4 linked regions of the Homo sapiens genome follow. The protein of the gene in region 1 purifies or fractionates together with the protein of each later gene. This does not show direct contact. Each region holds a gene or a part of one and is shown in the gene's direction. Other genes may lie near its edges.

Region 1 (4,764 bases):
AACAAAGCCAGTGTGTCTGGGGTATAGTGTTCTGGGAGGAATGCATGAGATTGGAGGGTGTCTGGGGAGCAGATCTTGAAAGCCATGGGATGTGTAATGGGAAGCAATTGTTTATTGTGGCTGAAAAAGACTAGGGTGATACATCTGGTGGAAACTGAAGATGTAAGAGCTAATTTCAGTGAGAGACAATGATGGCTTGGACTAAAGTGGTTGCAGTACATGTTAACTGAGATTATAATCACTAAGGATTCAGAGATAAAAATGTAGTAGCTGTAGTAGCTGTAAATCAAGTATCTTACAGATAATCAGATAATTATTGTAAAATACAACTCTAGTTACATTAGATGTAGAGAGAGCCCAAGAATTTTCAGAGAAGTTGAGACTTAATGAGCATAGTATGGGTTTAACCCTATTATTAATAGGTTGCCTGTTGAGCCGGGGTGGGATTGGGAGCTAGGGGGCTTGATAGTGGTGAAGGAGGTGTTAACGTTTTCACATATATATACACAGATAATATATTTGAAGAGTGAAATCATATTGCTTAAATAATTTGGCTGTAGCAGTTTGACAAGAGAATGCTACCCTAACAATCTTGAACAATATATAGTGTGGCAGTATGACAAGAGGATGCTACCCTAACAGTCTTACACAATACATCCTGTGAATGGAAGGATGAAATATTTTGGAGGAAGCTAGGTACAGAAAAGATGAATATGATGATGTATATTTTTCGTATAGTAAACCTTTACATAGTAGGAATTGTATTTCTTAATGAAATTTATGTTTTTATTTTAAAAGGTATTTGAAATACCTTACCAAGAAATACCTTAAGAAGAACAATCTTCGTGATTGGCTTCGAGTGGTTGCATCTGACAAGGAGACCTACGAACTTCGTTACTTCCAGATTAGTCAAGATGAAGATGAATCAGAGTCGGAGGACTAGGCAAAGGCTCCCCTTACAGGGCTTTGCTTATTAATAAAATAAATGAAGTATACATGAGAAATACCAAGAAATTGGCTTTTAGTTTATCAGTGAATAAAAAATATTATACTCTTGAACTTTTGTCTCATTTTTTTGAGTATGCTGTTTATATGATTTTGATTTCCCTCTGATAACTATCAACAGTATTTAAATAGCTTATAGCTGGTATAATTTTTTCCCACGATTTCCAAAATCTTTTATGTACTCAGGTAAAAGTAGCGTTATATAGGAAATCTTTTTTTTAGACACTCTCGTTCTGTCACCCAGGCTGGAGTGCAGTGACTCAGCTTCCTAAATAGCTGGAATTACAGGTGTGAGCCACCATGCCCGGCTAATTTTTTGTACTTTTAGTAGAGTAGGGTTTGGCCATGTTGGCCAGGCTGGTTTCAAACTCCTGACCTCAAGTGATCTACCCACCTCGGCTTCCCAAAGTGCTGATTATAGCTGTGAACCACCATGCCCGGCCAGGAAATCTTACTGTAGAACAATTTTTTATATAGCTGTATAAAATGTATATGATTGTCTTGACAGTCTCAAATACTGTTTTTAATAGCTTGTAAATGTAATCTCAAGTGCTTAGAACAGTTCTTACATATAAGTTGCTCTGTAGTTTGCTCTTATAGTTAGCCCAAAGACTCTGGGTGTGAGGCCTGCTGTAAACCAATGTTAAACTGCTTATTAGAAAGCCCTAACCACCTGCTTTGTAGGCACCAGAAACTCAAAACCAAATCTCAACTCAGCTACAGAATCTACTGTGGTCCTTGTCTGAAAAAATTAGTTCACTCGGTTGGAATCTTGTCTCAGAGCATCCTCATCTCTTTCTCAAAAGCCCCTACCCCAACACCGGCGTGTTGGTTGTCTATTGAAACTTACAAGTGGATGGACCCTTTCTCCCGAATAAACTGGCCTTTGAAAGCTCTAATCGAAATGGTTTGGCAAAATCCATACTGCAGGAGATTAGGGAGGACAAGAATGATGTGCCTTTTTGTACTGCTGAGCCTGATGGTGGTGCCACTACTTCAGGTACTTAGATGAGTCTTGATGCTAATAGAATTGTGTCGCCAAACATATCTGGACAGTTACAACCTAATCTATGCATTAATTGGTTTGGGAATTGCTTGAAATTATTGTTTAATTCAATGTTTTAATTCGTTTTCCTAAAAATTTAAGTGCCCCCATCATCGTGCAATACCTCAGTGCAGCAACTCCTTGATTCTTGGATGACTGAACTTCCTAACTTGGCTCTGCCCCATTGTTCCCATTTTTCATGTTTTTCACAAATAGTTAACCAGGTACCTACTACTGTGCACCGCTGCAGAGCATTGAGGATGTATGTGATGAGTAAAAACACCCAGCCTGCTCTGCTGTGTTAGTATTATGACGGAAACTGATCAAATCACATGTGAACAAATTTACTGCTACAAAAGGGAGGGCTTAATAAAAGGAATTTCATCTGGGAAGGCAAATGAAGTTTGTGAGCACTTTATAGAACAGGGAAGGTAGGCAGTATCTGGGAAGGGGAAAGTAGGGCATTCCAGACAGAGGGAGGAGCACTTCTGAAGTTCTCAGGGCATTGGGAGTCTGGTTGGCCAGAGTACATTCTGGAATAGATGTGATCATGAGGATAATCTGGAAAAGTAGAAGCTAGCCAATGCAGGACTGAAGTCCATGTTTTCATCTTGAGGGCAATGGGAGCTTGTAATGAAAGTAACGTGACCTGATGAGATATGCATTTTGAAAAAGATCAGACTGTATTGTGGAGAATGGATTTGTTGTTGTTTTGTTTTTTGAGATGGAGTCTCACTTCGTTGCCCAGGCTGGAGTTCAGTGGCATGATCATGGCTCACTGCAACCTCCACCTCCTAGGCTCAAGTGATAATCCTGCCTCAGTCTCCCGAGTAGCTGGGATTACAGGTGCCTATCCCACGCCCAGCTAACTTTTGTATTTTTTTTAGTAGAGATGAGATTTCACCATGTTGGCTAGGCTGGTCTTGAAATCCTGACCTCAAGTGATCCACCTGTCTCGGCCTCCCAAAGTGCTGGGATTACAGGTGTGAGCCACCGCACCAGACCTGTTCTCAGTATTTTACATGAATTGAATCATTTATCATCATAACATTCTTTTGAGATAAGTATTAATATCCACATTGGCAGCTAGGGAAACTGAGGAACATAGAGTTAAGTAATTCGTCCAAAGTCACACAGTAAGTTATGCAACCCAAAGTTGAGAAAGAGGGTAGCTTTGGGAAATCGGACAGGGACAATGCAAATTTTAAGGTTAAATTGCATTTAGGAAGTAATGAACAGTGAGGATGGGTGAAATTGCCTGACAGAAATGTCATGATCTGATCTAGTTTAGATTACAGTGAAGTATTTCGTTAGTCTATGACAAGAAGGAATGAGAATGCAGAGAATCTCTTAATCAGACTATGCATTTTGAGAATGTGACTTCACAGTCGTGAAGCTGACTTTATTCTGAAGGGCTGAATATTCTGAAAGAGAGCAAATGAGAATCAAGTATTGACAAACACCAATTGCTTCCTCCATTCTTTTCCTAGAGTGATCTTTCAAAAACACATCTGATATTCACATGTTTAAAATTCTTGAAAGCTAATTTAGCATTTAATATTTATTATGTGCCAGGGACTGGGTATATTATGTCAAGTAAGATATTCATGCCTTTAAGGTGTTGGGAGGTTTGTTAAATAATAAAATTTATTGAGGGCTACTGCAGGCCAGGTACTGTTTTGGATACTGAAGTAAACAAAATGGAAACTCCTGCCTTCATGAAGATTACAATCCAGCGGAGGAAGACAGACAATAAAATAAATAAAGTGTATGTTACATGGTGGTAAATGCTATGAAGAAAAATAAAGGAAATAGGGAATGTAGGAAGGAAGGTGTGTTACATTTATAAGTAGGATGAGGGAACATCCTCACTATTCCCCTCCTCACTTTACTGAGAAAGGCTCATTTGAGTAAAGACCTAAAGGAGATACTGAATCTAACCAAGTAGATGTCTTGGGGAGAAGTACTTCAGGCATAAAAAATAGCAAGTGCAAAGGCCCGAAGGCACGAGCACCCCTGGTATAATCAAGGAACAACAAGGAGGCCTCTATGACCTGAGCTGAATGAATGGTGGAGAGTAGAGATTAGAGAAGTAAAAAGAGGTATACATGGGGTGTGGAGAGTGGGATGATGGTATATGAGTTATCGATTACACTAAAGTGTAGCAACTTGAAAGAAATATATCTCACATTTCCTGAGGCTCAGGAATTGGAGCAGCTTATCTGCATAGCTCTGGTTCAGGGTTTCATGAGGTGGCAATCAAGCTGTGAGCCTGCACTGAAGTCATGGGAGAGTTACCAAACTACTGCCTGTTTTTGTAAATAAGATTTTCTGGGAACACGTTAATTTTCATGTTGTGTATGATGGAAAAGTTGAGTAGTTGCAATATAAACCACATGGCCTGCAAAGCTCGAACTATTTACCATCCAACCCTTTAAAAAAAGTGGCTTGACTGAAGCTGGAAGATCAGCCTCCATGCACACTGACAGAGCGGTTGGCAGGAGAATTCAGTTCGCCGGAATTCTTGCTATGTGGCCTCTGTATGACACTGCTGATAACATGACAGCTGGTTTCCCCCAGAGCAAGTGATCCGAGGAGGAAGAAAGAAACCAAGATGGAAGCCACAGTGTCTATAACCGAATCTCAGAAGTAACATGTCATCACCTTTTCTTTATTTTACTGATCACATAGACCAGTCTTGGAAGAGAATAACA
Region 2 (8,947 bases), on another chromosome or scaffold:
TTGCTACTGCATCCACGGTAAGGGACTGGAGTCCAGTACAGCCGTCCCCCCAGGACTCCCCACCTGCTCCTGGCCCAGCAGCCCCATCCTCAGTCACACTTCAGTCAGTGCACACACACACACACACACATCCCCCCCTTCCAAATTCTTTTATGTATTTACTAATTGAAAGAGAGCTGGAGTCTATGAAGATTCTTTTTTTTTTTTTTTTCTTGAGATAGAGTCTCGCTCTGTCGCCCAGGCTGGAGTGCAGTGGCGCTATCTCGGCTCACTGCAAGCCCCGCCTCCTGGGTTCACACCATTCTCCTGCCTCAGCCTCCCGAGTAGCTGGGACTACAGGCGCCCGCCACCACGCCTGGCTAATTTTTTGTATTTTTAGTAGAGACGGGGTTTCACCGTGTTAGCCAGGATGGTCTCCATCTCCTGACCTCGTGATCCGCCCGCCTCGGCCTCCCAAAAGTGCTGAGATTACAGGCGTGAGCCACCGCGCCCGGACTCTTTTTTTTTTTTTTTTTTTTTTTGAGACAGTCTTGCTCTGTTGCCCAGGCTAGAGTGCAGTGGTGCAAACTTGGCTCACTGCAACCTCTGCCTCCTTGGTTCAATTTTCCCACCTCAGCCTCCTGAGTAGCTGGGATTACAGGCGCCTGCCACCATGCCCAGCTAATTATTATTATTATTATTTTTTGTATTTTTAGTAGAGACGGGGTTTTACCATGTTGGCCAGGCTGGTCTCAAACTCCTGACCTTAGGTGATCCACCCACCTCAGCCTCCCAAAGTGCTGGGATTAAAGGCCTGAGCAACCATGCCCGGACTTGAAGATTCTTAATGGGAGGGGACTGCCAGCCCTGCCTGGGACCTGAAAAGTCCTGATCCAGGGCTGGGCCAGCCATGACAGTCTTATAACCCTCTCATCTCAAGAGGGAACCACCGACAAGACTCAGTGACGCCCCCAGAACTGTCACCGAGGGACTCCTGGGCGGAACCTCCTTACACCACCCCCACATGCCAGCTGTCCTGACCAAGGGACCCCTAGCTCATGGAGCACACCTGACACGGTGAGTGCGCCCACCATCCTCCATCCCTTCCAAAGTCCTTGAACTGGGAGTGGACGAGCTGGGACCCCCTGATTATCCCATAGAGGTCAAGGACTGCCCCACCCCAACTCTGCCCCAGCTGTCATCCAGCTGTGGTGTCCTGCCATATCCACCCCTCCAGGAGCCCCCAGCGCCCTTCAAAAGGCCCCCTTCCCTCTGAAGGGAAACTGCTGGTTTCCTCTGAGCCTCCCACAGTGACCGCCAGACCCAGTGTGAATTCATTCATTCATTCAGCTACTGCCACTCATTCATTCATTCACAAAGTTACCGAGTACCTAACAAGGTGCCACATTCACTCATTCATTCACTCACAAATGGTGCCCACAAGATGCTTCATTCATTCATTCATTCATTCATCCATAGTTATCATGTGCCCACAGGTCCTGGGCTCTGCTGAGTATAGTCTCCCCGCCGTCCAGGGTCCCCAACTCAGGGAAGCCAGCCAGGAAACAATTTATCTCCCTCAGATGAGAAGTGAGGGGAGCCCCGGAATGAAGTGAGTGGGGCAGTGAGGGGAGGACCCAGAAACACGTTTCAGCAAGTTCTGCACAATGAGTGGAGCTGGTCACTGAAGAATTTAGGGAGAAGGGTGGGTGCAGTGGCTCACGCCTGTAATCCCAGCACTTTGGGAGGCCAAGGCGGGCGGATCACCTGAGGTCAGGAGGTTGAGACCGGCCTGGCCAACATGGCGAAACCTTGTCTCTACTAAAAATACAAAAATTAGCCAGGCACGGTGGCAGGCACCTGTAATCCCAGCTACTTGGGAGGCTGAGACACAAGAATTGCTGGGAGGCAGAGGTTGCAGTAAGCCAAGATCGCACCACTGCACTCCAGCCTGGGTGACAGAATGAGACTCCGTCTCAAAAAAAAAAAAAAAAAGAAAAAAGAAAAAAGAAAAATTTAGGGAGAATGAATGTCACTCTCAAAGACCCCGGGGCACCCTTGGAGGGCTCACAGAAGCCACTGAGCACCCCTAAATCTAAATCTGATGCCATCAGCGATCTCCTGACATGGCAACTCTGTCAAAAGTTCTGACCTCCCCTTCTAAGACCCTCTGGGGAGCACCCCCGGTCTCAGAGGCCCTTCACTCAGCAGCACCACACCCCGAGACAAGCTGTCTCCTCCAAAGGCCTCCTGAGACCGCAGCCCACTCATTTTGTATTCACACATGAGGAATGCACACACTCTCTCACATGAACACCAACATACGCGTCTTTCTCAGTTTCAGATCCTATCCCCTGGGTGGCCCCCTTCAGCCCTTTCTCTTGAAGACCCTCGATAAGGACCTGATGGGAACATTCCTTGCTTCAGAGACCCCTAGGAGCAGGTCAGCCGACCTGGACTTGCAGCCCAGCTTCAAATGACCCTGGAGCAGTTAATATGCTTCTCCAACCTTCAGTCCCTACCTGTAAGAAATGGAGACACAATAACGTCTGTCTTACTATTAATAAATATGCAAAATATGGGAGTGATGATTAGGTCTGCCCTAATTCAAATGCCTCCCAATGGAGCCGCAACTTTGGCCGGGCCCTGTTTCACATATGCTGGAAATACAGAGTTGACCAAATTGATTCCTCAGCTTATAGACACACCAGGTTGTAAAGACTGTTTCTTTGGGTTTTTTTTTTTTTTTCTTTTTGAGACGGAGTCTTGCTCTGTCGCCCAGGCTGGAGTGCAGAGGCGCAATCTCGGCTCACTGCAAGCTCCGCCTCCCAGGTTCACGCCATTCTCCTTCCTCAGCCTCCTGAGTATCTGGGACTACAGGTGTCCACCACCACGCCCGGCTAATTTTTTTTGTATTTTTAGTAGAGACGGGTTTTCACCGTGTTAGCCAGGATGGTCTCGATCTCCTGACCTCGTGATCCACCTGCCTCGGCCTCCCAAAGTGCTGGGACTACAGGCGTGAGCCACCGCGCCCGGCTGGTTTTGTTTTGTTTTGTTTTTTGAGACAGCGTCTCACTCTGTCGCCCAGGCTGGAGTGCAGTGGCACAATCTCGGCTCACTGCAACCTCTGCCTCCTGGATTCACGCCATTCTCCTGCCTCAGCCTCCCAAGTAGCTGGGACTACAGGCACCCGCCATCATGCCTGGCTGATTTTTTGTATTTTTAGTAGAGACGGGGTTTCACCGTGTTAGCCAGGATGGTCTCAATCTCCTGACCTCATGATCCGCCTCCCAAAGTGCTGGGATTACAGGTGTGAGCCACCATGCCCGGCCTATTATTTTTATTTTTTGAGACAAGGTCTCGCTCTGTCGCCCAGGCTGGGGTGCAGTGGTGCAAACATAGCTCACTAGAGCCTTGAACTCCTGGTTTCAAGTGATCCTCTTGTCTCAGCCTCCTGAGTAGCTGGGACTACAGGTACGCACCATCATGCCCAGCTAATTGTTTTACTTTTTTGCAGAGATGGGGATCTTGCTATTTTGCCCAGGCTGGTCTGGAACTCCTGGCCTCAAGCGATCCTCCCACTTTGGCCTCCTGAGCGCCGGATTACAGGTGTGAGCCACCGCGCCTGGCCCAGTTTGTAAAGATTCTTCATCAGAGGGAAGAGGACTTCCAGCTCCATCTGGGACCTGATGAGTCCCAACCTGTGGCTGAGAATTAAAGGGCATGATGCCCATGAAACGCTCAGGCTGGAAGGGGCAAGACTCAGATTTACTCTATAAGAGAATGCCAGGGCCGGCCGGGCATGGTGGCTCACGCCTGTAATCCCAGCACTTTGGGAGCCCGAGATGGGCGGATGGCCTGAGACCAGGAGTTCCAGATCAGTCTGGCCAACACGGTGAAACCCCGTCTCTACTAAAAATACAAAATAATTAGCCAGGCGCGGTGGCGTGAGCCCGTAATCCCAGCTACTTGGGAGGCTGAGGCAAGGGAATTGCTCGAACCAGGGACGTGAAGGTTGCAGTGAGCCGAGATCTCGCCACTGCAGTCCAGCCCGGGCGACAGAGCAAGGCTCTGTCTCAAAAAAAAAAAAAAAAAAGGAGAATGCCAGGGCTTGCGGGTCCCCTTCATTCCCCTGCAAGGCTACCCTCATAGTAGCTCCTGATCCACCTCACCTAGGACCTCTCTGGCGGTCCCAGTAAAAGCTTCAGGTGTCCCTAACCACCCAGCACCCCCTGACCACAGAAAGACCTCATCCCACCCCAAAACTTTCTCAAACATCTGTACCGCCCTCAGATGCCCCAATCATGACTCATGATCCCCTCTAACAATCTCTACCCCGTTGGAAAGTCTCGTGGTCCCTTAGCTCCTTGGACCTGATAATAGCCCTGTCTCACTCCACAATTTCCCCGAGCCTGGCGATAGCTTGGGACCGCCTCAGATGACCCCAGGGACTAGCTTGTCGCATGTCACGACCTCCCAGTGCTCCCCAACCCTGCTGGACCCCCTACCAACATCCATTTCACACAAGATCCCCCCCTACGACCGCCCAAGACACCCCGATGACAACCACGTGCGTACCCGCGAGACTCCCAGACCCGTTCGATCCAAACAGCCCCCAGTAACCCCACGACCTCCCTGCGGCCTCGGCCCTCCACCCTCGGGGCCCGGCCGGCGCTCACCAGCGACGCTGGCAATACTGGTGGTGCTGTAGGCTTTGCGGTGGCAATCGGTGCCATCGGGGATATCCCAGTACTGACGAAAAACCTTCGGCGCCATAGCCCGCAATCTCGATCCCGCACCACGGACCCCGCCAGCTCGGGAAGCGCAAGGGCAGCCGCGGCTGGCTATCGCGAGACTTCTCGGGCTGCGCGCGCAACCTTTCGGGCTAGCGGGCCGGCAACAAGTGAGCAACTTTATTGATAGGCGCGGACATGGACATGGATCGCGCGCACGCGCCGGGGACCGGCCTGGAGGAAGAGAGTAGCACGTGCATCCCCAGGCCGATTCCTAGAGGGTGAAACTGAGGACGACTGCGATCAGTGCAGACAGATTTCGCTAGTCCCAGCTCAGGGAGTCCTAGGTTAGGGACTACTAGAGGCGGGGACTATCTACTAGGGGAGGGGCCGGGCTCAGACTGGGACGGGCGGGACTCCAGTTGATAGGAGCAAGACATGACGAAACAATGACTGGGGGGCGGGGCATGGCGGGGATGTGGCCACACCCAGTGTCAGAATCTGCATAGCGAGTGGTCATGCCCTGTGGTCAGTCACCAAGCTGGAGTCTGAGCAGCGTGCTACTGTTTTGGGCCGTGGACAGGATCAGGGGCGGGGATTATCGGGAAAGTGACCAATGACAATACGAGAAGCTCAGCGGGACGTGGCCTCTGTTCACCCCGCGGCTGTCCCACGCCCTAGGCCGGATGAAGTACACAGGCGCTTGACTTGGGGGCGTGGCTAGAATTGGAGGCATAACCTAAAAGGGACTTGACCAATCTGAGACTGTATAAGGGATGAAGGGGCGAGGCCGTGCCTGGATCTACCCCTGACAGGCCACAGGTTCGGGGGGCGTGGTCAGGCTTGCTGTTTCGCGGAGTCCGGGCCAATCCTGGTGTTAGCTTCCAAGTAGGGAGGGGACAGTATCGAAGGTGTGACCAATCTTGTTTCCAGAGCCTGAGTTGCGCGAGCCGCCAAAGGATGTGGCCAGCCTGGGGGCGTGGCTGTCAAGATCTTGTCCAATCCTAGAGTGAGCCCAAACTCAGGGGCGGAGTTTCATGATCCCGGAACCGGTGGTAGTGTTTGGGTTTGAGGAGAGCACGACCCAGCCCTCTGGGGTGGGGTCTAGCGGGGTCAGCGACCAATCGCGCCGAGGTCTAGTGGGGCGGGGCCCTCCCGGGGGCGGGGCCTGTGCCAGTTCCGGGCCGCCTGGGGGCGTGGCCGGGCCTGTACAGCAGCCTGGGCCATGTCGGCGCCGCCGGCCCTGCAGATCCGGGAGGCAAACGCACACCTGGCAGCCGTGCACCGGCGCGCAGCGGAGCTGGAGGCGCGGCTGGACGCGGCGGAGCGCACGGTGCACGCCCAAGCCGAGCGCCTGGCCCTCCACGACCAGCAGCTGCGCGCCGCCCTAGACGAACTGGGTCGCGCCAAGGACCGGTGAGGCCCGGGGCCGGCCAGGTGGACTTCACCGAGGCGGTAGGCGGAGGCAGAGCCGAGGCTGGAAAGCGAGGAAGGGCAGGGGGAACCGTGTGCACTTGTATAGACGCTAGACTGAGTATCGGATTGATAAAAACACCAAAAAACTCGAATTAGTAATCAGTATGTAAAGTTGCGAGAAGTGACACAGGTGTGGACCTCTAACTTCAAACAGGCCCACTTTCCCACAGGTGCTGAGCGACGCAGGGACCACAGACCGCCCAGCGTAGGCATTGGGAGCCATAGCAGGCTCTTCAGCAGGGGAGGAGGGGATCATATCAGCATTTTAACTTTTAAAATTTATTATTATTTTTTTGAGACGGAGTTTCGCTCTTGTCGCCTAGGCTGGAGTGCAGTGGCGTGATCTCAGCTCACTGCAACCTCCACCTCCCAGATTCAAGCGATTCTCCTGCCTCAGCCTCCCGTGTAGCTGGGATTACAGGCGCCCGCCACCACGCCCGGTCGATTTTTTGTATTTCTAGTAGAGACTGGTTTTCGTCACGTTGTGCAGGCTGGTCTCTAACTCCTGACCTCAGGTGATCCGCCCGCCTCAGCCTCCTAAAAGTGCTGGGATTACAGGGGTGAGCCACCGCACCCGGCCTAAATTTATTATTTTTGAGGCAGGGCCTCACTCCTATGCCCAGGCTGGAGTGCACCTCGACCTCCGGAGCTCAGGTGATTCTCCCACCTCAGTCTCCCAAGCAGCTGGGACTACAGGCGTCCACCACCACGCATGGCTTATTTTTTGTATTTTTTTGTAGAGACAGTTTTGCCCTGTTGCCCAGTTTGGTCTTGAACTCCTGGGCTCAAGCAGTCCTCCCACCTCACCCTTCCAAAGTGCTGGGATTACAGGCTAAGCCACCATGCCTATCTATTATTTTTGAGAGAGGGTCTTGCTCTGTTGCCCAGGCTGGAATGCAGTGGTGCGATCTCGACTCACTGCAGTCTCACCCTCCCTCCTCAGCCTCTCAAGTAGCTGGGATTACAGGCGTGCGACAGCACACCTGGCTGATTTAAAAAAAAAAATCCTTTAGAAATGGGGTCAGACTATGTTGCCTAGGCTGGCCTTGAACTCCTGGGCTCAAGTGATCCTCCTGCCTCAGCCTCCCGAAGTGCTGGGATTATAGGCACGAGCCACCATGCTGGCCCATATCAGCATTGTTGAAGAGTCCCTCTGACAGCTGAGGATGAAAGAGATGAGACAGGCACCCAGGGAGGTGGGAGGAGCTGGGTCCCAGGTGGGAACTATTACTTCAGAGCTAATTGGACATATTCATTTTTACCGAGCACCTGCTCTGTGCCAGGCACTCATTCATTCGTCTTCATTGAGCACCTACTGTGTGTCAGGCATTCTGCTGAGTACTGGAGCACATCAGTAAGACTTAGCCTTGCCCATTGGGTATCCACAGTCCAGTGGAGAGACAGACATGTCACTGGGCAGTTACATCATTGGTGGCCAGCGGCCATGATGGAGGGGCATATGGGGCTCTGAGGGATCTCAGAGTGAAGGCTTCCCAGAGGAAGAGCCTACTAAGAATAGGTGGGAAAAGATAATGGAAAGGAACGAACTGCAGGAAGAGTGAGGGGACGAAATGAGGGTTCTCATAAGAAAATGCCATAAACTGGCTGGGTGGTGGCTCACGCCTGTAATCCCAGCACTTTGGAAGGCTGAGGCAGGCAGATCACCTGAGGTCAGGAGTTCGAGACCAGCCTGGCCAACATGGCGAAACCCTGTCTCTACTAAAAATACAAAAAAATTAGCTGGGTGTGGTGGCACACGCCTGTAGTCCCAGCTACTCGGGAGGTTGAGGCACGAGAATCGCTTGAACCCAGGAGGCGGAAGTTGCAGTGAGCCGAAATTGTGCCACTGCACTCCAGCCTGGGCAACAGAGAGAGACTCTGTCTCAAACAAACAAAAAAACAAAATGCCATAAATTAAGTGGCTTAAACAAGAGGTTTGTTTCTCAGCGTTCTGGAGGCTGGACGTCCGAGAGCAGGGTGCCAGCATGGTCAGGTTATGGGAGGGCCCTCTTCCGGGCTTGCAGATTTCTGGCTTCTCTCTGTGTCCTCACAGGGCAGAGAGAGCCAGGGAGTTCTTTTGTATCTCTTCATATAAGCACACTAATCCCATCATAGAGACCCCCACCCTGACAACCTCATCTAACCCTAATCACCTCCAAAAAGCTCCATCTCTAAATACCCTTCTGCTATGGTTAGACTTTGTGTTTCCACCCAAATGTCAGCTTGAATTGTAATCCCATAATGCCCACGTGGTGTGGAAGGAACTGGTGGGAGGTAAATGAATCATGGGGGATGGTTTCCCCTTCATGCTATTCTCATGATAGTGAGTGAGTTCTCATGAGATCTGATGGCTGGGCGCAATGGCTCACGCCTATACTCTCAGCACTTTGGGAGGCCGAAGCGGTCAGATCACCTGAGGTCAAGAATTTGAGACCAGCCTGGCCAACATGGTGAAACCCTGTCTCTACTAAAAAAAAAAAAAAAAAAAAAAAAAATTAGCTGGGCATGGTGGCACACGCCTGCAGTCCCAGCTACTGGGGAGGCTGAGGAGGCAGAATTGCTTGAACTCGGGAGGCGGAGGTTGCAGTGAGCCGAGATCACACCACTGCACTCCAGCCTGGATGACAGAGCTAGATTCCGTCTCAATCAATAAGGGAGATCTGATGGTTTTATAAGGGATTCCCCCTTTGCTGGTCTCTCACTGTCTCTCCTGCTGCCCTATAAAGAGGTTCCTTCCATCATGATTGTAAGTTTCCCGA
Region 3 (9,233 bases), on another chromosome or scaffold:
TGAGACCAGCCTGGCCAACATGGTGAAACCCTGTCTCTACTAAAAATACAAAAATTATCCAGGCATGGTGGCACACGCCTGTAATCCCAGCTACTAGGGAAGCTGAGGCAGGAGAATTGCTTGAACCCTGGAGGTGGAGGTTGCAGTGAGCCAAGATCATGCCACTGCACTCCAGCCTGGGCAACAGAGTGAGACTCCATCTCAAAAATAAATAAATAAATAAATAATAAATTAAAAAGAGAGGGGAATGTCTGGCCACAAAGAAAACAAGAAGAGCAGTTGAACATTCATGTGGGAACCCTCTGGGACAGCAGAACTATGAAACCCTAAAGATGGAAAATACTCAGATAAAAATTAATAACATTTTGGGATGCATCATGGGACATCAGGTGAAATGATACATTTATTGTATTCCAAGGTTTTTTAAAAAAATGATTTAATGTCTCATACATTCAGAAGTTGGAAATGAGAAAAGAATTAAAAATATGCAATTACTTTTATAATAAAAACGTTTTTCAAACATAGAAAATGGATTTCTTTTCATAGTTATTGTCTGCATAGCCTTTCTTGTTTGTTCAGTTCTCTGGTACAATTATCTTTTTTTTTTTTTCCACCCAGGCTGGAGTACAGTGGCATAATCATAGCTCACGACATCATCAAACTCCTGGACTCAAAAGATCCTTCCACCTCAGACTCCCAAGTAGCTGAAACTACAGGTGTGTTCCACCACACCCGGCTAATTTAAAAACATTCTCTTTATTTATTTAGAGACAGTCTTGCTCTGTTGCCCAGGCTGGAGTGCAGTGGCACGATCTCGGCTCACTGCAACCTTCGCCTCCCACGTTCAAGCGATTCTTACGCCTCAGCCCCCAAGTAGCTGGGATTACAGGCTCGCACCACCACGCCTGGCTAATTTTTGTATTTTTAGGAGAGACGGGGTTTCCCCATGTTGGCCAGGCTGGTCTCAAACTCCTGGCCTCACTAAGTGCTGGGATTACAGGCGTAAGCCACTGTGCCTGGCCTAAAAACATTTTTTTTTTTTAGAGATGAGGTCTTACTATGTTGCCCACACTGGTCGGGAACTCCTGGCCTCAAGCAATCCTCCTGCCTCAGCCTCTCAAGTAGCTGGCATTAGAGGTGCGAGCCATCTGCACCAAGCATGGGGAACACAGTTCAATCCATAACAATGATGTTCCAGCTACTGTTGCTATTAACAAATTACCCCAAAACATAGTGGCTTAAAACACCCATTTTATGATGCTGATGGATTTGGTGGATCAGGAATTCAGAGAAGGCACAGTAAGGATGCTTGTCCCTGCTTCATGATGTCTTAGGCTTTGATGTCTGAGGGTGACTAGACAGCTCAGGGCTGGGATCACCTGGTGAGATTTTTCACTCAGACGTCTGGTTGTTGATGCTGTCAGCTGGGACCTCAGTTGGGGTTAGTGATGGGACAACAATGTGGGCCTCTCCATGTGGTTTACGCTTCAGGCAGCTTCAGGGACTGCCAAACTGTTTTTGCTTCAAACAAGACTGTTTCAGGAAGCAAGGTGAAAGGCATATCACCTCATGATCTAGCACTGAAGTCATGTCATTTTACTTCTACCACTTTCTATTGGTGATAGGGTCCAAGGGACTGGGAATTAGACTCTACCTCTAGAAAGGATAGTGAAGGTGCTAGAAAAGTAAGTCAAATGGAAGATATTGTTGCAGCCATCTTTAGAAAAATACAATCTGTCACAGGTGATGACCCCTGGCAATTTTTTTTTTGAGACAGGATCTTGCTGTGCTGCCCAGGGTGGAGTGCAGTGGTGTGATCCCAGCTCACTGCAGCCCTGACCTCCCAGGCTCAAGCAATCCTCCCGCCTCAGCCTCCCAACGTGCTGGGATTACAGGTGTGAGCCACCTCGCCTAGCTATGTGCTCATAACAAATTAAACTTGTTTTGGATTAAACTCCTTACCCTCCTCCCATCCTCAAATGATCTATTATTCTCAACTTCTGTTTCTATCAGTGGTGTACTACGGCTAAAACTTTATTATCCCTGACAAAAGCATGCATCAGTCTACGTTGTAATTTAATACCACTATTTAGTGAAACACTGGAAAGACAGAGTTACTAAAAGGAGAAAAGGAAAGCACCCTTCCTGAAGAGTAGATAATCAAGAATCGATTGGGTTTTATTGGTGTTTGTTGAGCATTTACTGTGTGTCAGGGCAATACCAGCTGCAGAGGTTGCTGGATGGAATAATGCAGCACTCACAATGGTTAAAAGCTGGGATTTTCTCCAGCTTTTTTTTTTTTTTTTTTTTTTGAGACAGGGTCTCACTCTATCACCCAGGCTGGAGTGCAGTGGCACACAATCTCAGTTCACTGTAACCTCTGCTTCCCAGGCTCGAGTGATCCTCCCACCTCAGCCTCCCAAGTAGCTGGAACTACAGTTCTACATTATCATGCTCAGCTACTTTTTTTTGTATTTTTAGTAGAGATGGGGTTTCACCATGTTGGCCAGGCTGGTCTTGAACTCCTGAACTCAGGTGATCTGACTGCCTCAGCCTCCCAAAGTGCTGGTATTACAGGCGTGAGCCATCGTGCCTGGCCACTTGTATATATTTGTCTCAAGTTGCAGAACTGTGCACTAAAAGTGCTAAATTTTATTGTGTGCAAATTATATCTTAATTTAAAAAATATATGTATAGGCAATGTACAGGTGGCATGGCATCAGAGAGGTGGCATGACAAGTTGGTTAGGGACATGGGTTCTACAATTTGCCAGCCTGGGCTTGGAAATCCTGGTTGAGATTTGGATATGGTAAGCACTTCTCTCAGAAGCCTGGTTGGATTGCTCCATAGCGCTCTTACTAGGATCACATGAGACAGTGCAAGGAAAGTTTTTAATGGGGTGGTCAGTACATAACAAGTATTAGTATTACTTTTTTCCTTAAAAATAACAGCTCAAGGGGTAAATTCTTTGGTCTAATGGAGGCACAGAGGCAGTAACACATGGACTGGCAGGAGTTGCAGGTTGGGGAGAAGTGGGTAAGTGTTGGGAACGGCATTGCAGCAGGATGGAACAGCATGTGCAAAGGCTAAAACATAATGTCATGTTTACGAATCTTTTAACATGGGCCTATCTGGAGCACTTAGTTCAGGGGGAAGATCAAGGAGAAGAGAACAACATGGATGATGGGTAGAGTTCTTTTTGATTGTTTGTTTTAGATACAGGGTCTTGCTCTTTTGCCCAGGCTGGAGTGCAGTGGCATGATCATAGCTCATTGTAGCTTTGTATTCCTGGGCTGGTGATCCTCAGCCTCCCAAGTAGCTAGGACTGCAGGTGCACGCCACCACGCCTGGCTAATTATTATGTATTTATTTTTTTTTAGAAATGGGATCTCTCTATGTTTTCCCAAGCTATGGGGGTAGAATTCTGCAGAATGGGACTGTGAAGGGCTCCTTTGAGTTTCTGTATTTCTAACAAGTCTCCACGTGATGTTGATGCTACTGTACCACTTTGAGCGGTAAGGGTATAAAAGTCAAGGGAAGAAAGTGTTTCAGAAGGCCGGGAGCGGTGGCTCATGTCTGTAATCCCAGCACTTTGGGAGGCCGAGGTGGGCGGATCACCTGAGGTCGGGAGTTCAAGACCAGCCTGATCAATATGGAGAAACCCCGTCTCTACTAAAAATACAAAATTAGCCGGGCGTGGTGGCATATGCCTGTAATCTCAGTTACTTGGGAGGGTGAGGCAGGAGAATCGCTTGAACCTGGGAGGCGGAGGTTGCGGTGAGCGGAGATCACGCCATTGCACTCCAGCCTGGGCAACAAGAGCGAAACTGTCTCAAAAATAAATAAATAAATAAATAAAGTGTTTCAGAAAGTAGGAAGAGGCCAATCATATTGAAGACAGGGAAACACGAAGTCAAGATGAGGACTGAAAGACTCCAGTTATCAACCTGTAGGATGGGGTGTTCTTAGGGCAAGCAATAGGCAGATAGGAAAGGACAGAAGCCACATCGGTGTGGTTGATGATTGCATGCCAGGTGTGGAAATGGAGAAAGTGCATATAAACAATTCTTTGGTGCAGCTTGGCTTTGAAAGGGAACAGGGTCGCAGGAGGGAGAATTGGTGTTTTTGATTGTTTGTTTGTTTATTTGTTTTTTTCGAGACGGATTTTCACTCTTGTTGCCCAGGCTGGCGTGCAGTGGCGCGATCTTGGCTCACCGCAATCTCAGCATCCCGGGTTCAAGCGATTCTCCTGCCTCAGCTACCCAAGTAGCTGGGATTACAGGCATGCGCCACCACGCTCGGCTAATTTTGTATTTTTAGTAGAGACGGGGTTTCTCCATGTTGGTCAGGCTGGTCTCAAACTCCCAACCTCAGGTGATCCGCCGCCTCGGCCTCCCAAAGTGCTGGGATTACAGGCGTGAGCCACTGCCCGGCCGAGAATTGGAGGTTTTTGTTTTTGTTTTAGACGGAGTCTTGCTCTGTCGCCAGGCTGGAGTGCAGTGGCGCGATATCGGCTCACTGCAACGTCTGCCTCCCCAGTTCAAGCGATTCTCCTGCCTCAGCCTCCCGACTAGCTGCGACTGCAGGTGCGTGCCACCACGCCCGGCTACATTTTTTTTTGTATTTTTAGTAGAGACGGGATTTCACCGTGTTAGCCAGGATGGTCTGGTCTCGATCTCCTGACCTCGTGATCCGCCCACCTCCGCCTCCCAAAGTGCTGAGATTACAGGTGTGAGCCACTGCGCCCGGCATGAGAATTGGAGTTTTTAACATTCCATTTTAAGATGGGAGACACAAGTAATCTTTAAAGCTGACAGGAAGGATCCTGTAGGAAGGAAGAAGTTGGAGACACAGGCAAGAATGGGATGCCTAAGGATAGAGTTGCTAGATTTAGCAAACACAGGACGCCCAATTAAATTTGAATTTCAGAAAAACAACGAACAATTTTTCAGTGTGTGCCCCAAATATTGCTGGGTGTCTTGTATTTTATCTGTCAATTCCAAAATAGTTCATCTCTAGGTAAAAGGGTTATAGCCCCAGATGTCCTAGGAAGGAATCAGAGCTCTCAAGTCCTTTCCAGCTGTCCCAGTACAACACTCTGAAATGAATTCCCAGTTCTACCAGAACTGTTAACAAGTAGAGAAACTGCTTTGAATTTCAGCTTTTGCGGCTTTCCCATTCGCTCTAGGATGGCAACTGCGAAGAAAAATGCCGGACTAAAAGCTGTGGAAAAGTTCTAATTTGGAAAACCAGCCCGCAAGTGATGCAGAGGCTTTTGAACTGCAAAAGAGCTCTGGGCGTACAGGACAGTGAGTCACACGGTGCCTGGTCCGGGCCCAACCCTGGACACCAACACCACTCAACTCAAGGGCAGGTACCCGGCTGCTGCCAAGGGGTCAGCGGGAGCCTGCGCACTGCCACGGCCCCGCCCTCTTCCAACCTTTCATCCGGGTCTCGGGCAGGGGCGTGTCTGGGCAGAGGGGCGGGTGGTGGCGGAAAGGAAGGATGTCGTGGGAGACTGGAGAGTGGGGAGGGAAGCGGGAAGGGGCGGGGGCGGAGCAGGGGGCGTGGCGGAGCGGGAGCGCGGTCACGTGACGTGCGTGGCGACGTGTCGGCCATCTTGTGTTGTTGAGGCTGAGGACTGACTGGGGTTCTGAGACTCCCTGTCCCGGACCGCAGGTAACCAGCCGTTCCGTGTCGCTCCCCTGCCCGGCTCTGCTCCGCGCCCCGGCCCCGCCGCCGCGTCCCGGGCCGCCTGTGTCTCCGGTCCGCGTTCGCGCCCCTGCTCCTCCTGCCCGAGCTGGCCCGGCCGCATGGACACCCACAGGCCGCTCCGGCCGGCTTGGGCCGTCAGGCGACGGGACAGGTCAGGTGCAGGGCCGGAGGGAGCCTCCTCCTGGGCGAGGGGCGCTGAGGGCCCTGGCGCGTCACGGCCGCGAGGAGCCGAGAAGCCCCTAGGCCAGGGCCTCTTGGCATTGCGAGGGGAGCCGAACAAGGCAGGAGGGTTGTGGGGTGGGCAGTGTCAGGCCGGCTTGCTCGGAGCTGGAGGGCTCGCCTTCCTCTGCTTGCTTCTCCGCGCCAGACACCCGCCCAGTCTCGGGGTGGCCCGGTAACAGCTGCTGCGGCCAGACAGCTGCTCCTGCCGGCTCTCCTGTCCACACCTGGTCCCTGGGAGGTGCGCTCCTGCCTTCCCCACAGAGCATCTGGACGGAGGAGACTCCTTCCGTGGCGAGAGTACTGGGTCTGGACCAGGCCTGAGGCGAGGTGCAGCCACCATGATCGGAACCTTGGGACCGAGGCTGGGAAACTAGAGCCCATGGCAGCCTTGGGGACCCAAATGTTCACATCAGGTTGAAATGGGCATTATCCTTAAGTGTCAGTTTCCAAAAGCACTCTGAATACTTGTTTTGCGACTGAAACATAAATCAAGCGAACAGGGAATGGGGGCATGAAAGAAGCGGAGCGTATGACCGTGTTTGGGAAGCAATAACGTTGTTTTGCAGTTAATTATTTAGTACTGTGTTTTTTATTTTGTTGTTTTCGTTTTCCTGCAAGTCAAAGCACTTAAACACACGTAGTCTCTCTGTAAGAAAGGTAAGTATTCCAGTTTAACTTGCAAGAAATTGAGTATGGGGCTAGAAGCTGTGAACAGCTTCCTTTCTAGAGCTACATACATTGAATTAAGGCAGTTTTGATTCCCAATGTTGTGCCTGGGGAAGGTATTCTTTCTTTATATAGTATGTCCTTTTTAGAATCAAATGACTTCCTAGATTAGAAAAAAAAATTCTGTCATTCTTTCTGTACATTAATTTTGCTCCTTCTAATATTTGTAGCTTTGGCCTTATTTTGTCCATTTTGCCTAGAACACAAATACTTTCTCTTATTCATTGATGGTTTTACGTGTTTTACTAGTTGGTGTAGCAGTTTCTGATGTGCTCAAACTGGAATATGTACTTGGCTTTTACATCAGATGTTGACAACAGAAGAGGACACTAGAAAAGTATTTAAAAGTGGCACGTAACTGGAAAAATGTCACATGATGTTTCTTTCGAAATTTAACATCAAGGAATACACTGGTGATGGTAGTGCTTCACCAGAAAGGAGAGGGCTTCATGACTTTTTGGTACCTGACAGCATTTGAGACTCTTGAGGTTTGGGAGGGAGAAGGAACCATGTGCTTCCATTCATTTGTTTATTCATTCATACATTCATTTATTTGACAGATACCCTGTTGAGCACTTACTACACTGTTAAGTACTGGGAGCAAAACAGACCAAACAATTCCTGTCTGTATGGAATTCATTTCTAGACAGATAAATAGGTAAAATACTTGATGTAGTGGTAAGCGATGTGAAAGAAAAAAATGAGTCAGGGAGATAGAATAATAGGGGTTTGGGGAGGGGTTAATTTTAAGTGCCCTGAGAAGGCCTCATGGAGAAGCTAACACTGGAGGAAAAACCCAACAGAGGTGAAGGTGCTGTTTCTTTAGCTATACTGGGGTAAAAGTGCTCTAGGCTAGGGAGCAGCAAGAGCAAAGACCCGGAGACAAAAGCTTAGGAGCGATTCAGGAGTAGACTGGGAAAAGCATGGAGGCTAGCCTAGGCTGAGAGGCTAGGGTGAGTGGGAGACTGGTGGGAGATGTGTGTACTTACTGTTTGGTACTAAGATGAGATGGATTATTTGCTATCCTGAATTCTTTTTTCTTATCTCTTGTGATTCTTGGAAAGGGAAATCAGATTCTGGAAATTTGGGCCAGCAGCCAGCCTCCCCAACCCCCTTAACTCCCATCCCCATCCGCTAATTTGGAAAAATTTAGGATGCTCAGTATTTCAGGAAATTATAATGAATTATCTTTCTCAAAAGTAAACGTTTTAAAATGAGATTGATGATAAACTGCTTGAAAGTACTTTTCAAAAGCAATTGCTTTACAAGAAGGAGGCTCTTTGGAGATTTCAGGATATTTGAAAATGTAGGGAAATTAGAAATTTTCCTTTCACATTTAGACACATGATTAAGGAACATACCAGGAAGAAAGGTGGAAACAATGTATTAACTCAAATTATCCTTAATCTGGTTAGTAAAGAATTTTTCTTAATACTGTGCTGTCCAGCCCGGAGACTCTTCCTCTAATTCATGTGTATATCCTTCACATTTTACACGTGTAGAACTTTTTGTGCTGAGTTTTTTATTCCTCCACTTTTACCTTTCAGACTAGTTGTCTAGTCTGATACTTAATAGACATATTTTTTTGCAAAAAACATTTTCTGATTTCCTTCCAGTTTATCTCCATATTCTTTTTACTGAGCTTTCATAAATGTCCTCTTTCATTTTAGTTCAGCTGAGGAATTTTAATATTTTGGTTTTGAAATGCTTTTGCTGGTGAGATGCATATGTGAAAAACACTTTGGAGTAGGTTTGCCTCAAAATCATGAGAAGATGGAAATTACAAGGTCAGTGTGTGAATGCAACTCCTTGGCTAAAAGGGAGGCATAGTGATGGTAGTGATGAGGTAGTGTTTTAACTAATTGCCTTTCTTCCTCTTGTTTTTCTATTGTGTTTTTGAAATGACATTTCCAAATTATGTCTTTGATGTCATATCAGCTCATTTGTTTTCATGACTCTGCATTTTAATACTCCATATTGTCTCTTCTCTTTTTGTTGACCTTCACATTGGAAGATGACACTGTTGATAGTGATTGCTATCTGGGAGAACCTTTTTGGGTAAAAAGATTACTACTGTCGCTTTTATGATTGCCCTTCTGTAGGATCTTTGACTTGTGCCATTTTCAAATTTTGACTTTGTTTGCAGTTCTCCATTAGCTCCTGCTGATTAAATTTCCCATACTTTCTGTTTTATTCTATTTCTTATAGATTATAGTGGGACCAGTCTCATTAGGTTGAATCTACAGCCTATGTTGGTGTTAACCCAGGTCTCTTAGAGGCAAGTTAAATGTCCATTTTCCTTCAGTTTAAATTACCATGGCATATTGTTTGGTCATTGTTGTAACAGTCTGAACTCAAGCTTTTTTTCACTGCTTGATTCCCACTAGGGTTTTGTGGTGATAAAGTCCTATGGTTTTTGCATGGGAGAGTATTTAAGAATAAAAGGAAAAATATATAAAATGAAAAAGAAATAGAAGTTTAAAATAAGATAAAAAAGTCCTAGAGTTTCCATTCATTTTTAATACTTTGAAAAATTACATCTCTTTAAAACTAGAGATTTTTATTTCATG
Region 4 (8,943 bases), on another chromosome or scaffold:
AGTACCCACCTCAGAGGGTTGCTGAGTTCATCTCCACCCCACCAGGCTAAAATGCAAACTCTTTCTTGTTCACAGTATTCTAAGTGCCTAGAAGAGTAGTCAGTCAATGAATGTTTGTTGAATGAGTAACTAAATAAATGAAATTTGGAGAAGAATATGCTGATTGACAAATGTAAACATCTGGTCCTCTTGAGAAACCTATTGCCACTGGAAATTAAAGTTTTGGCTTTCGAGTCCCTAATCTGTGCCAGGAACTCCCCATACGTGGAATTTTCAAAACAACTCTTTTAGGAGAAATAGCAGTTACAGTTTGCACAAGACACCAAAGCCACACTAATGGCAGAACTAGGGTTGGAACCCTGGCCTATCATATTGCTTCCCTCTCATCCTTAAAATTTTTTGTAGTTTAAGGAGATATGTTTCAATTTTCTAGAATAGTGCTTAGTGTATTTTAAAGCATTTTAAAATCTGTCTTGTCCAACTAAACTCCAAGAAGGGGAAAAGCCTATGTTTTATTCCTTGTACTTCTCGTATCTTCTACAGTAATCGGCACATAGTAGGTGCTCACTAAATCTTGAGCAAAGTAAATCAAATTGAAATTTCAGTGATATGCTTGTATAGAAGAAAAGAAAAACCCTTAGATTTTGGATTGTGTTCTGGATAGAGGTTGTATATTTTAGTAGAAAGGGTTTGGGCTTTGGAGTCACCTGGTCCTGGGTTTGACCCCAAGCTCTGCCACTTATTTAGTGGGTAAACCAGGGAATAATGTAAAGATAGTAAGTAAAACAGTACCTACCTCTCAGGGCTGTAGTAATTAAGGCACTAATGTAATGAATTAAGGGGCTAGTGTATGTAAAGACCTGCCACATAGGAAGTACTCATGGGTGAAATAAATATCTTAATTTTTAATGTTAGTAATTTAGTGATTAAAAAATGAAATAGTCACAGATAATTGGTGGACAAGAGTAACTTTAAAGGAAATTTGGTCCATTTTAAAGAAAAGGAAACTGAAACTCAGTGAGGTGTAGCACCCTACCCAACTGCCCACCCTAAGAAAACCAGACCCAAGATTCTAGAAAGGTTGGGCCAGGGAAATGATTGTAGGCTCAGGGATGACTTCTCCTGAACCAGCTTCCCAATTTCATCCTGGTCCCGGGATTGGTGGCCAATGCCCCATTTAGTTGTTACAATCAAGGGAAGAGGGCAGGCCGACTGAACCCTGGGACCGTCACCTGTGTCTCCTGGTAAGTGCTGATCTTCACCCTCACTTTAGCTTTCCACCTTCCAGCAGTCCCTCATTTCTATCAACTTGCCCATTCTCTTTTCATTAAACTTGCTTTTCATGTTGCGCCAGCATCAAGATAAAGACATTTTTTATTCAGTTTTGTTGTTACAATCCACAGCATGTTTTACTCTTTTGATTATAAACTTGCTCTGTTTTAACACATCATGGGTTAAAAGGGCTTCTGTGGACTAGTGTGGACTAATAGCATACTGATAGCCTTCTGTGGACTGATAGCATACTGATATCTTTGTATGACCTTGTATGAAAACTCAGGAACACAAGATATATTTTCTTTCCCAAAACTTAATTTCTGAAGCTGAAACTCTACTCTGTCCTTTTGGTTCACTTAGCCTCATCACTCCATGTGTTGTCCCCTTTCCTGATATGTGTGAGCAAAGGTTTCTTAAAAGTGCTGTGGCCTTGGAGAGGATGGCACTTCAGTCCTCAGCTTACACAGTTAACCAGCAAAGTGGAGCAGGAGCATTGGCTGCCCCACCCTACCTGGTCCTTGCCCTCTGCACTGCCTCCCCATCCTCTGTTTCTTCACTCCTGCTCCTGTGGTGCCCTGGGGGAAGTTAACACACGTCCTCTCTGCACTAAGGACCTTCAGCCTCCACTCTTCTCAAGGGAGAAAAAATTTATCTCTAGGAGAAATATTTCTCCCTTCAGGACACTCCTTTGCCAACAGATGTCTTTCCCCTGAGAGCTTAGGCTTCCCTAAAATAAAAACATGAAAGACAAGCTTTCTCCCCTGCCATAGGCTTCCCTAAAAGGCAGTGATCACCAAGCTAGCTTAAATTAGGGAAGAGGAAAATTTGAGAAGGGGCGAAATAAACATCACCCAGCCCCCTTTCTTTGGAAATACAGATTCAAGATTTCAAACTACTGACCTTCAGGTGAAACTTTGGGGATGTTGAGACTTAAAATGCTCAAATAAAAACCCTGGTGCAAAATGATGCTGTAGCAGTCAATGATTCTACAATGGCATTTTTCTGTGTTTGCCTGCAGGATACCTTAAGGAGATGAAAACATGTAGATAAGTGTATATAATTTATATAGAAAAATCTTTTATTAAAATTTATGTTTTGACATTACGGCTGAAGAAAATTGATTTGTAAATAGGATCCAAGACCCTCACTATTTTAAACCATCTCTCATAGTACAAGTGGGGAATAGACATTTTCCTTCTTAGTGTTCACAGGGATGCCCTTGGGTTTCCCTCTCTCGGCCTCAGGGGTGTTTCCTAGAAAAGATCCTCAGGGAAGTTAATGAATATGTCTGTATGAGTTAGGGAAAGCATGGCTTTAGTTTATAACTTCTGCAATCATCAAGTTAAAAATAGAATGATGCATCTAGCTATTATTCACTCGATGCTTATTCATTTAAAAAACGGATTTTTACTTCATTATTTTTATGATAGGAAAAGAACATCCCTCTTGAAAAATAAACATATTAAAAATCCTTTGAATTTTATTGCTAAAATACTTATTAACAAACACATCTTCTTTCCAAACACATCTTTTTTTTAGATCTCATGGTGGATGTTCCTGGACATGGAAAGGTGATGGTGGACATTGCATATGGCGGTGCATTTTATGCATTTGTTACTGCTGAAAAGTTAGGACTAGACATTTGTTCTGCAAAGACCAGGGACCTTGTGGATGCAGCGAGTGCAGTGACAGAGGCAGTGAAAGCTCAGGTCAGTAATACTCTGCCTTCATAACCAATTCCCTTCTCTGTGGCATGGAGGAAATATACATTATTATGTCTATAAAGAAAATTAAATGATGTTTAAATTATTAATAGTACTAAGAATAGGGTACTTATTAAAATCTTAGGCTCTAGAGCAAGCTTGTCCCACCCGTGGCCTGTGAGCCACATGCAGCCCAGGATGGCTTTGAATGTGGCCCAACACAAATTTTGTAAACTTTCTTAAAACATTATGAGTTTTTTTGCAATTTTTTTTTAGCTCATCAGCTCTCGTTAGTGTTAGTGTATCTTATGTGTGGCCCAAGACAATTCTTCTCCCAGTGTGGCCCAGAGAAGCCAAAAGATTGGACATTCCTGCTCTAGAGCAAAACTATCTATGAGTTCTAGCTTTACCACTGGTAACGTATATAACCTTGGGCAAGTTACGTAACCTCCATATGCCTCAGTTTTCCTGTCTGCAAAATGGAAATTAAAAAATACCTGCTTTGTAGGGTTGTGAGAATGAAATAAGTCAATACATGTAAAGGACTTAGAGTAGTGTCTGGCCAATAGTAAATGTTCAGTAAATGATAATATTATTTTTTTTGAGACAGGGTCTTGCTCTGTCACCCAGGCTGTAGTGCAGTGGTGTGATCATAGCTTACTGTAACTTCAAATTCCCAGGCTCAAAATGATGCTTCTGCCTCAGCCTCCAGAGTAACTGGGACCACAGGCATGCCCCATCACACCCAGCTAAATCTGTGTTTGTGTGAGTGTGTGTGTGTGTTTATATAGAGACAGGATGTCACTATGTTGCCCAGGATGGCCTCAAACTCCTGGCCTCAAGTGATTCTCCCAGCTCGGCCTCCCAAAGTGTTGGGATTACAGGTGTGAGCCACCACACCTAGCAGTTACTAAATTTAATAATACATACATACTAATATAGTTTATAGTTCCTTAAATGTGTAGAAATATATTTATAGAATTCTGCAAATTTTAAATGCATGTGTGTGGTCATTCTGTTAAACTTGAAAATAATAAATGTAAAATATAGTGTACAGAATAGATTTAAGCCTTTTTCTTATTTCATAGAGAACATTAATTCCTATTATTTTTTTCCTACATTGCTAAGAAGTTACTCAAATAACTACTTAAATAACTCTAGTTTTTACTTGGGAAAGCTAATTTGATAAAATCAGTTTAGATAATAATTCTAGGATATTCTTTCACTTCTAGCACGAGTGAAGCACATTTTACCTTGAAATTGGGACCTATAAATAAAACACATGTACAGTATTTGAATGTTTAGTACGTGAGAATTTAGTATGTGAGAATTTATTAGTAGTAAAAAGTAACTTGTGTAAGATAGTGTCTAATGTACGAATAATTATCATTTTCTGAAGCTTTATTTTAAAATAATTTATAACTTAAAATGAGAATATACACTGTATCAGTATTCTAAATTATTTTTCTGGTACTGCCAGTACCAATATGTGCAATTATATTATGATAGCAACTTTTGAAGCTCTGAATTTACATCAGTTTTCTGTTCCATTAAGCAGGACAGCTAATAGTCTGAGTTAACAATTTGGCACAAAATAATTTCTCCTAATTTTTCATGAATTCAAGAGAAAAAGTCATGGATATCTTAATAAAAGGTGTAATTTTGTACTTCTCATTTGAGTTTGAACTCAACAAGATGGCAAGGGGTGGACTTTGAGGGAGGAAGGATTCTGAGAAAAATGAGGACAAGTTCTGTTATTGATGTATCAGACAGTACAATTAATTACTCTGTGAACTGTTGACTATTCACACTGCTGAAGCAGATTTAGGAAAAGGCCATGGGGATGGAGAGTTAAAGTTAATATAAATTCATCTTAATTCATTCACTCTTTTAACAAACATTTACCACAAACATACTGTATATATGTTAGACATTCTGCTAGATCCTGGAGACTCGAAGAAAGAACAAACCCCACCTTTGAGGAGCTAGCTCCAGTTGGGGAAGCGAGCATACCTGTGAACAGTGTTATGTTGGAATGTGCTATAGTGGAGGTGGGGCGTATCACTTTAAGAGGATGGAGAACAAAGATTCAATCTGCAGGCCGCTTTAACTTGGTTTCAGATGGACTCTTTGGATGTTAAGAACCCAAAGCTGTTCCATTGCTTTAAATGACATGTAACTGGAAGTAGAAAGTACTAATTGTAAGCATATACAAGGGAAGTCAGATTATAGCAATCTCAGTCATACTGTAAATGTTTGCAGAAATCCAGGAAAAGTTAAAGAACTAGACTTCCAAGAACAAGTAGCTTTGCATATTTGGGCCTGAATCTACCATTGAGTGACTTAGCTACCCTGCCAGTGCCTGCTTCTTTGTGTGCATATCTGCTGCTTTTTGATGAATCAACTGACTTCATCGTCTACAATAAATCTTTTTTTCCTCCAATTGTTTCTCTTGCCTAATAGTTTCTGCATTCTTACAGAATGTTATATCCTCTCACAGCCTTTGTCTCTATCATTGGTGTTAACTTCAGCTCTAGATACTCAGAGCCTGATTTTCCCACATTATCCTCCTTAAGCTCCTGAGAATAAGACTATGATTGCCTTAGCTCATCCTGTTTGAGCAGCCATCGCCAGCCTGTGGATTGACCATCCTGGGGTCAGTGCTGCAAAGACTATGTGTATTTGGGGTGGGAGGGGTGTATAAAATAGGACTGCTTTTTTAGCAAAGGCTATATGCAGGACAGCTTCCTTAGAAGGGACTCAAAGTATGATAAGAATTATAAATTGCAGTAAAACTATGTTTCTTCATCTAGACAAAGACATAATTTCTAGCAATTAGTATACGTTGCCCAAAAAGGTATTTTAAAAATGATAAGGATTAAAAAGTTATGTCTAAGAATGACCCATCTGCATTATTTATAAATTTGAATCAAAATATTTATTTTGCATGTGATCTTTTTTTGTTACTTGCAGTTTAAAATTAATCATCCTGATAGTGAAGACCTTGCCTTTTTATATGGAACTATATTAACAGATGGAAAAGATGCTTATACCAAGGAACCAACCACCAACATTTGTGTTTTTGCAGATGAACAGGTATTAAAACTGTAATGTTTAGGGACAAAAGCCAGGTAATATGGAACACACTATGAACATTCTGTCTTCATTTATTCTGAAACAGGTTGACAGAAGTCCCACTGGCTCAGGAGTGACAGCCCGAATTGCCTTACAGTATCACAAAGGGCTTCTGGAACTGAACCAGATGAGAGCCTTCAAAAGCAGTGCAACTGGCTCAGTATTCACAGGGAAAGCTGTGAGGGTAAGTGGCACCCTTAGCTTCTTATTTATAAATGTGTCACTCATGAGACTGGAGAGGCCTGAGTTGGGTGTTTGATAAATTTCTTCACTCAGCTCTCAGAAGAGAATTTTAAAGCAGGCCTGTAAAAACTTCTTTTCAACTAGGACATTGGTTATCCAGTGTGGTCTTGGGGCCCCAGCGGGCCCCTAAGGTCCTTTCCATGGGTTCAGAGGGTCAAAACTGTGTTCATAATAATGACATTATTTGCTTTTCACTCTCATTCTCTCAAGAGTGTACAGTGGGGTTCTTCAGAGGCTACGATGTGATATGTGATAACCCAACCAATTGAATGCAGAAGCTAGATATGAGAACCTAGTTGTCTTCTGTTAAGCCAGACATGAAACAGGTTTGCAAAAATATCAAACAATGCCACTTTTCTCATAATTTTTTTTGTTTTGGCAAACAGTTATTTTCACAAAAATGTGTTATTCATATGTTAATGTATAATGGGTTATTTTTAAAATGAAGTAATGAACAGATATATCCAATTCCTAATACAGTAAATATTGATAGATATAACTTATATAAAGAAAAACTCTTTGGGGTCCTCAAATCTTAAGGTATAAAAGGGTCCTAAGACCAAAAGGTTTGAGAACCATTAGGATTTGGGGTTTTTTTTTGTTTTTTTGTTTTATTTTATAATAGTGTTTTATTTGATATAATAGGATGTGAAAGCCCTGAAAAGTTGTGGAACATCAAATTTTTGTAATGGAATAAAATTTTAAATGTGCTAACAGCTAAGTAATGAATCTTATCTCAGTAGTAAATGAAATCTACTACAGAATGATCTACATTCAGTAAATTATTCTACTCATAAAGAGTCCTTTAACATAGCAAACAATCTATCCTAATATAGCTGTTTTTAAGATTTGGTGTTTCTGAATATTAGAGTTTCCTTAAGGATCTCTACATCATATAGTGATCTGAAACATGTGAAACCATTTATGTTGTATGCAAAAATTTGGAACATACTGTCTTCAAAATCTGAAATGGAACATAAAAATAACAACATACATTTATTGGATACTTCACTGTGCATCAGTTTCCAAGCTAAGCACTTGATACATGCCATCTCATTTAATCCTCACAAGAATCCTACAAGGTCAGTACTGTGCTGTTATTATCGTTTTTCAATAGATGATAAAACGGAGAATTGGAGAAGTTAGGTAATTTACCAGAGGTTAGTTAGTGAGTAGCAGATCCAGGTCATGAAGGTGGGTCTCTGAACAGACCACATGCTGTTAAGCATTATATTATATTGCTGTCAGACAAAGCAAAAGGTCAATGAGGCTTTATATTATAGGAGCTGTTATGAGAAGAATCTGGGATTGCAATGTCCCCCCAAATAGAGAGGGAGCCGAGAGACCAAAGAATGACTCAGACAAGTCCAGGTTGGCAAGTAGATGCATTTATTAGAACTTCCATATAAGGCACTCCTGGGAAGCAGCTGAACAACTGTGGAGACCCATCCTGCCTCCTGACTCTAAGCTGCTTTTAAGCTAATTTTCTGGCTCTTTGCCTACTGTGTATGTGTGATAGGACTGTTTTCCTTGGTATGTTCCCAGATATTCTCTGGGATATTTGGGTTCTCAGGGATACCTGCTTCTTGGCTGGGCACCATGCCCTTGGCTTACCCCCCAGCCTTCAGGGTTCAAGCAGTGGACATACACCCTTACATAACCTGGTGAAGGACCTGTCACACTACAGCAGCTTTATAAAAAGATATAAAAAGATAAAGTATTATACCCTAACAATATTTGACATTTTACCTTTAGCTTCAGTTATTATTCTTTTAAAAATTAGAACATAAAAAGATATGCTGAAGTTAATGTTTCCAGTTACTTGTTTTATAGTTATTGATCATGCTTGCCAGAATGTCTTCACTTGCATCATGCTCTCTCCCTGTCTGTGTGGGCCCGTCCAGGCTCCCTGATGGTACCTTCTCAGTTTCTTCCCCTGCTGCAGCTTCCTTTCCCTGTCCTTCCATTTAGATGTTACCGTCACTTCATCCCCACCTTCCTTCTCATCTCTTCTACAGTTTGATGCTGCTGGGCAATTTCATCCACTTCCTAGGCTTCAGTTCTCAACCATCTACTGATGATGACTCCCAAATGTTTATCCCTGCCCTGACTACCTACCCTGTATGTCTTTCTGAATATAACGCTCTTAATCCCAACTGTTTATTATACTCATCTCTAAATGACTGTCCCAGAGGTGTCTCAAACTCACCTTGTTAAAAAGTTCTTCCTTTCTTCCTTTCTCAAATGTGCTCTTCCTTTCTCTCCCCATTGTGTTTAATGGCATCACTAGCATCATTTCCAAGCTAGAAACTATGGTTATAATTAACTTATTGCTAGTCCTCAATTCCCACATGCATTGATCAAGAGGCCTATCAGTTCTACCTCCAAACTATCTCTATGTTAGTATATATTCCCCTTCTCCATCTTCACTGAAAACTCCCATAGTGACTCTGGAATCAATCATTCAGTGAATTGAGGTTATCTCTTAACATGTTTCTGGGTCTCTTGTCTCTCTCTTCTCCAGTTTGATCCCCACTTTACAGCTACAGTTATCTAAAACACAAGTCTGACCATGTCATTCTCCTTA

The links.
Region 2: the proteins of RPL22L1 (region 1) and VMAC purify together in Homo sapiens (affinity purification with mass spectrometry; 3 studies listed by BioGRID and IntAct, with this or other methods). This does not show direct contact.
Region 3: the proteins of RPL22L1 (region 1) and GIGYF2 purify together in Homo sapiens (affinity purification with mass spectrometry; 2 studies listed by BioGRID and IntAct, with this or other methods). This does not show direct contact.
Region 4: the proteins of RPL22L1 (region 1) and L3HYPDH purify together in Homo sapiens (affinity purification with mass spectrometry; 3 studies listed by BioGRID and IntAct, with this or other methods). This does not show direct contact.

Annotation. Positions count from the first base shown.
Region 1 is NC_000003.12:170,862,559-170,867,322, reverse strand, and holds the end of RPL22L1 (ribosomal protein eL22-like), read left to right. Parts: intron 1-798; coding exon 799-943; 3' UTR 944-2,448; downstream 2,449-4,764.
Region 2 is NC_000019.10:5,898,954-5,907,900, forward strand, and holds the start of VMAC (vimentin-type intermediate filament-associated coiled-coil protein), read left to right. Parts: upstream 1-5,918; 5' UTR 5,919-5,937; coding exon 5,938-6,128; intron 6,129-8,947. Other genes in the region: NDUFA11 (NADH dehydrogenase [ubiquinone] 1 alpha subcomplex subunit 11), read right to left, coding at 4,659-4,755.
Region 3 is NC_000002.12:232,691,714-232,700,946, forward strand, and holds the start of GIGYF2 (GRB10-interacting GYF protein 2), read left to right. Parts: upstream 1-5,617; 5' UTR 5,618-5,679; intron 5,680-8,871; exon of another isoform or gene 8,872-8,941; intron 8,942-9,233. UniProt on the Homo sapiens protein: Key component of the 4EHP-GYF2 complex, a multiprotein complex that acts as a repressor of translation initiation. In the 4EHP-GYF2 complex, acts as a factor that bridges EIF4E2 to ZFP36/TTP, linking translation repression with mRNA decay.
Region 4 is NC_000014.9:59,473,223-59,482,165, reverse strand, and holds part of L3HYPDH (trans-3-hydroxy-L-proline dehydratase), read left to right. Parts: intron 1-2,814; coding exon 2,815-2,984; intron 2,985-5,951; coding exon 5,952-6,074; intron 6,075-6,159; coding exon 6,160-6,297; coding exon of another isoform or gene 6,298-6,372; exon of another isoform or gene 6,373-6,566; coding exon of another isoform or gene 6,567-6,602; exon of another isoform or gene 6,603-7,639; coding exon of another isoform or gene 7,640-7,651; exon of another isoform or gene 7,652-8,943. UniProt on the Homo sapiens protein: Catalyzes the dehydration of trans-3-hydroxy-L-proline to Delta(1)-pyrroline-2-carboxylate (Pyr2C). May be required to degrade trans-3-hydroxy-L-proline from the diet and originating from the degradation of proteins such as collagen-IV that contain it.